Regions from separate parts of the Homo sapiens genome. Here region 2 is linked to region 1. The links come from fine-mapping of genetic effects on gene expression. A gene starts in region 1. The other region holds a variant in brackets. All regions are shown on one strand. Distances are from middle to middle.

Region 1 (4,396 bases):
AACAAAAATGAAAACTTCCTTCAACTTACCACAGTAAGGCTAGAAGACAGAACTATTAATAACATGTTCATTTGCTACATTTTTTATCAACCTATTTGCATTAAATAATGTTAACCTCCCACTAAAGTTATTTCTACTTTGAATTCTGAGGTAGTCAAGAGATTTAAATAAGAAAAAGACTACATCTGTCTCTTCATTGTTACTTTGTTATTCCCGATCCATAATGCTTCAGTTTGCTACATTTAGTTAAACATCAGCAAAGTAAACAATAATGTAACTATTCTATCTAGTAATGAGCTTGGAGACTTAAAAAAATATATATAGAACTTTATTCCTTTTCATTTGACCACTAATAACATACTGAACATGCCCGTGAAAAGAAATAAAACACAATGGTAGAAAACTCCAAAAAGGTAGAGTGTCTTTACCATTCATCCCCCACCCCTATCTCATTAGCAACTTTCTGATCTCGGGTGTTTTCTCCAATAGTAAAGTGTATCCCTATATCCAAAACAATTTCTCTAAAGCCCTTCTCACTCATTCAACAAACATTTAACAGGTACATTGCACAAGGTGATAGAGGAAGAGAAACTGAATATTGTCCCTGCCTCGGACATTTCAGTGCCTTTACGCCTGACTTCCACTCCTAACCAGTCTTCTTTCACAGGTACCCTGTCCCCTAAAATCAAATGTTGCTTTTCACAGTTGCCTTTACTTGTCACCTAAAGTATTTCAATTCAAAATTTCCTCAAAGTCAACTTAACAGCTGCTGATAAAATAATCATTCTATATGATTACAAAGTGTTTCACCAATACATATCCCCATTTTTTCCAAACTTAAAACTTCTTCAGTCCTTATTACTTTAGCATAGAGACCTGCACTGTTGTTTCTTCTTTTTAAAAAAATACTAATGCTAATCCTTTACTGTTTGAGCAGACTTAATCCTACCTTTTCTTTTGTCAATAAATGCCAGGTGTTTTTTAAATCACTATCTTGTCACTTTTGATTATGATATACTGATCACTCTATTTGTATCTTGAATGAAAAGACCGCTTTGTGATTTTGCTAATGATATGTAAACTAGAACTTGAGAACCACTGGATACAGGAGTACTGCTGATCTTTATACTTTCTGTCTAAAAATGAAGCCCCTGTCTCTAAATTTCAGGAACAGGGAGTTAAGGTTCCATGAAGTGTTTACTTTCCACCCTTAATTTATTACCTTAATACTTCAGCTTAAGAATTATGTGTTCTGTATATATCACGCTGCTTGTCAATATCCACACATAAACCTTCTTGTTTTGACAATTAATCTGAAAAAGTCCCCATATAGTCTGAGAGGGGGAAAACCTAATTTGGAAGAATATAATAAATGTCAGTTTCCATCACAGAATATATGCTTCTCAAGTTCAATTAACCTCTCAATGATTCCCTAAGAGGAAAGTAATTCTCCTTAGTGTCCTTGTCATCCATGGAGTGGAAATCTTTCTACTGGCAAGATTAGTAATCACTTCCATGACCCCCAAAACGGCTCTTCCTTCCATTTCCCTCAAGTACTGTCTGGAGCAGCGGTTGGAATTAATAGAGGGGCCATAATCTCCAGACCTGAATACCAAATCAATCCTGCAGCCCCCCACACCCTTAATGCCCCTGCACTTTCTTGCTTATCCTTTTTCTCTCGTCTCCATTTTTCTTTCCTCCTTCTGGTGTTCCGGAACCTATGATACTCTCCTGGTTGTTTGAATTTTTACAACCTACCAGATAATAATCTCTTGTGATCCTCAAAGCTTCCTTAAAGCAAACCCTGAATCACTGTGTTTTAAAACCAGTATGAAAGACTATTGTGTGGGATAATGTTACATTGTTTCACAGCCCTACAAAGTTTGGCCACAAAACGTGTGGGCAGATTCCGTAACTCAACCGGAAACGCGAAGGACTGAAACAAATCAACACACAAAAAACGAAGCCAGCGAGAAAGATCCAACCCGGGCCCCCTGCCTGAAATGGGACACGGGGATGACGGGGCAAAGCCGGGCAAAACCGTGCTCCTGGCTCTCGCGATTCAGGAGACGCGCCAGGCTCACTGGGGACGACAGCGACGACGGCGGCGGCTCGCATTGCTCCACGCTTCCCGTCAGGGGGGCTCGAGGGACCGCCCCAGGCCCGGCCCATGCCCGGGCTCGGAGGGAGCCCCTGGTGCGAGGGCTGCCCGCAGGGCTCCGTCCTCCCGCTGAGGCGCGGCTCCCGGAGCAGGAGGCGCGGAGGCCGCCCTCGGCGTTTCGGAGTCGGGGCGGGGAACGTCCACGGCCAACTGCGGGCAGGGGACCCCCAGGCGGCTACAACAGGTGCGCCGGGGCCGCCCACCCGGCTCGGGGCGCGCCCGCCCCTGCGCCGACCCCCGACCCCTTCCGCCGCCGGGGCCCCGCTGTTACCTGCAGCGGCGGCTCCCGATTCCCGGGAGGGCGGCCCAGGGCCGGCGCCTTACCCGCGGGCAGGCCCACTCGCCCGACGGACGCCGCGGGTCGGCGACAGCGGGGACCGCGGGTCGGCGACGTCGGGGCACAGGTCCTGCGGGGCCGCGGGGGCCGCCAGGGAGGGCGCGACCGCCTGACCGGGCTTCAGGAGCAGTGTCCTCAGCCGGTGACCTGGCCGCTACCCTCGCTCAGTGTCCCCGGCGACGCGCGGGTCCTCACGCGCTCCCTCACTTCCTGCGGCTTTTGGTCCCTCCCGCTCGCCGTCCCTTTAGTTCTGCCCACTTCGCCTCCGGGTTGTCAGGGCAACCGTAGCGACGCCGGCCCTGGCTGAGAGGCGTTAGGAGTCCGGGGGTTCGCCCGCGGAGGCCGGGGAGCAGCCGACCATGGAGCCCCAGAGTAAGGGAGGCCCGGGCTGGAGCTGGGACCGGGGCGGGCGACCGGGCTGGGGCTCCCCGGGAACGAGTGTGGGCGCCCCGCGCGCGACTCCGCAGGTTTCAACGCTCGGACACGGAAATACGGTTTGCGTCTCCTCGCGCTTTTCTCTCCTGGAGAGGGGAGAAGGGGGCTACATCCTGCCAAGTCTGTATGGTTGGGCCGCCGGCGCCCTAGAGTCCGCGCTGGGGGCTGGGAGCGACTGGAGAGCCCCGAGGTATGGGTGGGGAAGGGCGCAGCGACCCCAGCGTGCGTCTTCCTGAAACTTCGCCCGGACGGTTCCATTTACTCCTCCTCCTACTCATGATTTTAGTTTGGTAGTTTGGTTCATTAATTGTAAGTAGCCCATTTTTCTTCTAAAATGTCAGCAATTAAACACGTCCGAGGCTGGGTCTTGTATTTATTAGAGACCCCGTCTTACTCCCCGCCCCCCGCCCCACACCCCTAGTCTGCGACTTGAAGGAGAGAGAGAGAAAAGAAGAGCTTTGTCCAAGTGTATTTGATTCATTCTTAGGGGTTCTACAAGTTAGGACACTCAAAAAATGTTTGTAATCTCTTTTTCTGTTTTCCCATGTTGCTTTCGATGTATGGCAAAAGTTGTGCAGTTTTGAGTTATCAGATCTAAACACGAGCTCTAACTTACTATTTTTGTTGTTGTTTTTACCTTTCCAGGGACTTTGTTTCAAGGCCTTTCTTTCTCTGCCCCGCCTAAGCTGTCTTATTGTTCCTTTTGTTCTCAAAATAAGGGGAGTGTTTTGTATGGAGACTTAAAATTTATCTAAAACCTTTATAGAAGGATGCAGTTTGACTCTCAAACCAAGTCGTCTTATCTTGTACAATTTCAGAAATGAAGAACTCAGACCAAATCTATTCTCTGGGGAAAATGTTGGCATTTTTAAAGGTCATTCGTTTTCCACCAAGAAAGTTTCAAATACTTTTCCTTTTAACTCATTTGCTGAGGAGAAAGCTTGCAAGTTGTGACTTATAGTTGCTTGATAGATTTTGTACAGTATTTGTCATTTGCATTTACAGCTCTTTGGATTCTACATTTTTTTAACCTAGTAAAAGAAATTTAGCATACAAGAACGCTAAAATTTTTGTTTTATGTCAAACTGATGGCAGGCTGTGTATATTCCCGCCTTAGAGAAGTGAGTTGAAATATACCTTTTAAAAACAGCAACTTGGCCTGGCCCGGTGGCTCACGCCTGTAATCCCAGCACTTTGGGAGGCTGAGGCAGGCGGATCACGAGGTCAGGAGATTGAGACCATCTTGGCCAGCATAGTGAAACCCATCTCTACTAAAATACAAAAAAAAAAAAAAAAAAAAAAAAAAAAAAAAAAAAGCCAGGTGTGGTGGCGCGTGCCTGGAGTCCTAGCTATTTGGGACGCTGAGGCCGAGGCAGGGGAATCGCTTGAACCCGGGAGGCGGAGGTTGCAGTGAGGCCAGATTGCACCGCTGCACTCCAGCCTGGTGACAGAGCGAGACTCCA
Region 2 (4,396 bases), 140 kb after region 1:
CATACAAAAAAAATACAAAGATATATACTCAAAAACATAAATGCAGATAAATCAATATGGAATACTAATCTACAGGAACACAGAAAAAGCACAATGAAACAAAAACCAGAGAGAACAAACAGAATAATATTAACATGGTAGACTTAAATCCAAACATATCAACAATTGCATTAAATATGAATGTTCTAAACACACCTATTAAAATATAGTGACTGGCTAAATGGATGAAAAAATCTATATGCTGTCTACAAGAAACGCTTTTCAAATGTAATTCCATAGGTATGTTAAAAGGATGGAAAAATTCATACTTTGCTTTTTATCCTGTTTTTAGAAGTAACCATTTCTGTTTGCTGCAATCATGAATGATGTTTCCTATTGTGAAATATCATTCATGATTGCAAAAAGACAACACTAATACTAATCAAAATAAAACTGGAGTGGATATAATAATATCAGATAAAGTAGATTTTAGAACAAAGATTACCAGAGCTAAACAGAGACATGACATAATGATAAAAGGGTCACTTTACTAAGATGACACAACAATCCTAATTGTGTGTATCGCAAACAACAGAGCTTCAAAATACATGAAGCAAAAACTGATGAACTCAAAGGAGACACAATTATAGTGGAAAAGTCCAACATCTCCTCTTGGTAACTGACAGAACTACTAGACAGCAACAAATTGAGATATTTTGTTGTATTTATCAAACTGGTAAAAGTTAAAATTTAGTGTTAGCAAAGTCATGGTGAGAAAGACAATAACAATGTGGGAACGCAAATGTATATGAGTTCTGAAAAAATATTTTTATATTATGAGGCTTAAAATGGTCATACAATCTTTCAACCCAATATTTTACTTTTAAGAATCTCTCCTAGGGGAATAAAGAGGTCCCAAGATTTACCTCTCTAGAACTTTCTAACAGCAAAAAATGATACATCAATACATGCCCAATAATTTGCAAGTACTTAAACATTTATATTCAAGTATAGTGTTATTATTAAATAGGATTTTTAATGCCATTGTAAATGGGACTAATTTTTAAGGCAAAACAAAGCAGCATATAAAACTGTGTACAAATAAATTATGTTAAAATACACAATTATAAACAAAAAATATTAATAGCAGTGAAAAATTACCAGTGATTATCTCCTACTTATTTGCTTGTTTTCTCCTCCCTTCAAGTTTTCTATTGTGAAATATCATTCGTTATTGCAGCAAACAGAAATGGTTACTTCCAAAAACAGCATAAAAATGAGATGATATACATAAACAATACAGTGCTAAGTTTGGTACGGAGACACTCTGTATATAGGTGGTATAGTTCTTGTAAATAATTTTGAAATAAAATGATGAGAGAGTATAACTGATGCTTCTTAGGGTGACCATCTGTCTTAGATTGCCTGTCTCTATTTTACTGTACAGGCCTAATTATTACTAGTCCCTCTGCTATTCTCAATAGTGTCATCGTTTAGTTGCATGAGTGGTCTAACTATTCAAATACTTAAAAAATTATAACTAGTAAATTAAAATATATGACACTCTTATTATTATACTCCAGGCACCAAACTAACTGCTTTATGTGGATTATCTCATTTAACCATCTGAGTAGCTGAATTATCTCCATTTTACAGAGGCACCGAGAAGTTAAGCAACTTATCTAAGCTCACACATTAACAAGTAGCAGAATCTGGATTTGAACTACATCCTATCATATTAGTACTGAAAGCATACCTGGGCCTGCCTAAGTGCAGGCTTGGCTGGCAGGGGTCTGGCAGGGACGCTAGGTGCACGTGGAGCCCGGTGGAGGGGAGGAAGCACTCGCTGAGTTGACTGGGGCTGAGGGACATTCAGGCCGTTGAGGGGTCTGCTGATGTCAACATTCTGACACTGCAGCAATCTCCTGGGATTGTCCTGTACAGTCAAAGTAAAAAGCCATGCTATAGCGGGTTTCAAAAATATCAGTAACTCCTTAAGGAAAAAGCAGTGCTAACTCATCTGTTATAGCTGAAGGCCAAGGTGGGGTAAAGGAAAGAAATCAAGGATGTACACAAGAGGGGAATTATTTTTGTATTTATTTAAACTTCAAAATTCAAACAGAAGCATCACCTGCCTCCACCCCACCAAATCTGGA[A/G]TAGAAGGATCGATTTTTGTTTAGATTTTAAAAAACTGTTTAACAAATAGGTGCAAAGCACTTGAAAAAGTACCAAGTATAAAGAAAGACACGGACCGAGATCTTAGGGAAGTTACAAAAGAGATGTGAAAATAAGATACAGCTTAATGTGTTCAAGGCTCAATGAGAACTGAGAAAACCACTGGGGAAAGGAGAGTTGCGGCTTCAGGAAGCCAGGGCTGAGGTTGGGGCTTGGAGTTGGAGACGTTCTCCCATATGGTAACCCTTGTTCTTAGAACAGGTGCTGCAGGGACCCTTATACCTCAGGCTTCTACCCCTTCCTTCCTCTCTTTCTAAAAACAGCTTAATTGAGGTATAGTTGACATAAAGTATACAACTTGGTCATTTTTTGACGTGTTTACACCCATGAAACCCTCACAACAAACAAGTGGACAAATGAATGCATCCATCACCCCAAAGAGTTTTCTTGTCATGCTTCTCCCTTCCCTCTCCCTCCAATCATCAGTCTGCTTTCTGTCACTATCAGTTTGCATTTGTCAGAATTGTATATAAGTGGGATCACAGAGTATATACTCTGGCTTTTCTTCTTTTACTCAGAATAATTATCTAGAGATTCATCCTCAATGTTGTATACATCAATGGTTCATTCCATTGTGCAAATATACCATTGTTTATCCTTTTACTGGTTGATGGATATTTGGATTGTTTCTAGTTTGGGGCTCTCAAAAATAAGGCTGTGCTTTTTTTTTTTTTTTAATAGAGCTGCATTTTTCTTTTTTACGAAAATGAAGATGTGCTTTTGGCTACCACACAAAGCCGTTCTCGCTTATGGTTCCACCTTTGGGGACGAGCAGGGGTAAAGCTTATTGGGAATGGCAGCCTCCTCCTTGGAGCCCCACCCTTTGCGTTTTTTGGATCAAGGGAGTTAAAACAGTTTATTGCCTACTGCATATGCAGCAATGATTTTTCAATCACTTATTTTTTTTGACACCAATCTTGTTCACTGTTATAATTTGGACTCTTGTTGACTAAGTTCAATATTCAAGAATTCTTGTGGGTACATCAGAAAAACTCGGTGGGGAAGAACTATTAGAATGAACTCTAGCTGTAATTCACCAGGGTAGCAAGAGGGTTAAGAGACAGCAGGGAGCCGTGAGGTACTCTGGGTTAAGGATCCAGTTCTCTGAAACCACAGGGTGGACAGGGCTTCCTCAGCTCAGGGCTGGAGCAAAATGGTCAATTCTGAGAGCTCCATGTAACTTTTGAAAAATATTTTAAGAGTAACAGTGGGCTAAAGCAGCTCACCTAAAGCCAGGTGGTGGCATTTGGAAACCATGGTGGGGCTGGCATTGGGGGCTGGTGTCAGGAGCCAGCTCGGGCTGCAGACCCAGTGGGGCCCCAGAAATGTGGCTGGTCTGGGTGACTGAAGGGATCACAGCTCACACTATGCTGCACCATATCATGCAGGGGGCACTGAGTGCGCCAACAGGATCTAGGTGGGCTTCCATGGGGGCACCGTGGGGCCTCCCTCTGGCCCCAGATCACAGAGACCCTCCCTCAGAGCCTGCTGACCTAGTGAGGCTGACTCAGCATTTCACAGGCAGCGCCTCTAGGATCCCATTCTTATTCAGTCTCGTATTGAAAACCTCATGTCTGCATGTGTGCCCTGAGCACTCACATCTACTCAAGACTCACCTTCGGTGGGTAGGAATCTGGCGGCTTCCTCATCAGGCCTTTTCCAAGGTGGCCGAGGTGAGCCTGACAGGGTTGGAAGCCACGGGGTGGCCGGGAAGGGCGCACACACCTGCAACAGAATCCCATACCTGCTGACCAAGCGTGTTTCCCCTTCTCACTGACTTGACTTTTTACACTTTGCTCATAGTGGCACTCAAAAGACAGTTTACTTAACTCAGTGTGCTAAACATGCAAAGGAAAAATTACCTAATAACACTCTTAGGAGATTAAAAAATAAATACTGGTTTTTCCCTCAAAACCTCTATTTTGTCAAATTAGTTCTCACGCTCCATAGAAATGCAGTGTAGTGACACCTGGAAGATGATTTGTATGAAGCTGGCATTTCAGCGATAATGTCTTTGAATATATTTGGATCAAAAGCTACCCCATCTGATGAAAATATTTCAATGTCTCCATGTTGTATAAAAATTACTAATATAAGGGTGGGAGAAAACACATCAGTGGAATTTCCTGACACCCTGCTAGCTTATGTAATAAGCAGCACATTGTTGTTTGAAGGGAAGTAA

Direction of the effects. Alleles are on the strand shown, and positions count from the first base shown. SD is a standard deviation of normalised expression in the study named.
For the expression in testis of the gene that starts at base 2,779 in region 1, A is the high allele of the variant in region 2 and G is the other (small effect, 0.21 SD a copy in GTEx).

Evidence for each region. PIP is the estimated chance that this variant, and not a neighbour inherited with it, causes the effect.
Region 2: its variant is the best candidate, but not a certain one, in a credible set for the expression of FANK1 in testis (GTEx, PIP 0.55).

What each region holds. Positions count from the first base shown.
Region 1 is chr10:125,893,786-125,898,181 of GRCh38, forward strand. It overlaps FANK1 (fibronectin type III and ankyrin repeat domains 1), which reads left to right and starts at 2,779. Exons shown (of 11, transcript NM_145235.5): 1 at 2,779-2,870. The coding sequence starts at 2,858. It also overlaps a transcript of DHX32 not described here. RefSeq lists silencers at 2,284-2,363, 2,584-2,663, 2,824-2,963, 3,055-3,349.
Region 2 is chr10:126,034,411-126,038,806 of GRCh38, forward strand. ADAM12 (ADAM metallopeptidase domain 12) reads right to left here. Exons shown (of 23, transcript NM_001288973.2): 20 at 3,831-3,939; 21 at 1,736-1,915. Among named protein-coding and RNA genes, the nearest start is that of FANK1-AS1, 63 kb to the left of the region's middle. The variant A/G (reference allele first, on the strand shown) is at 2,136.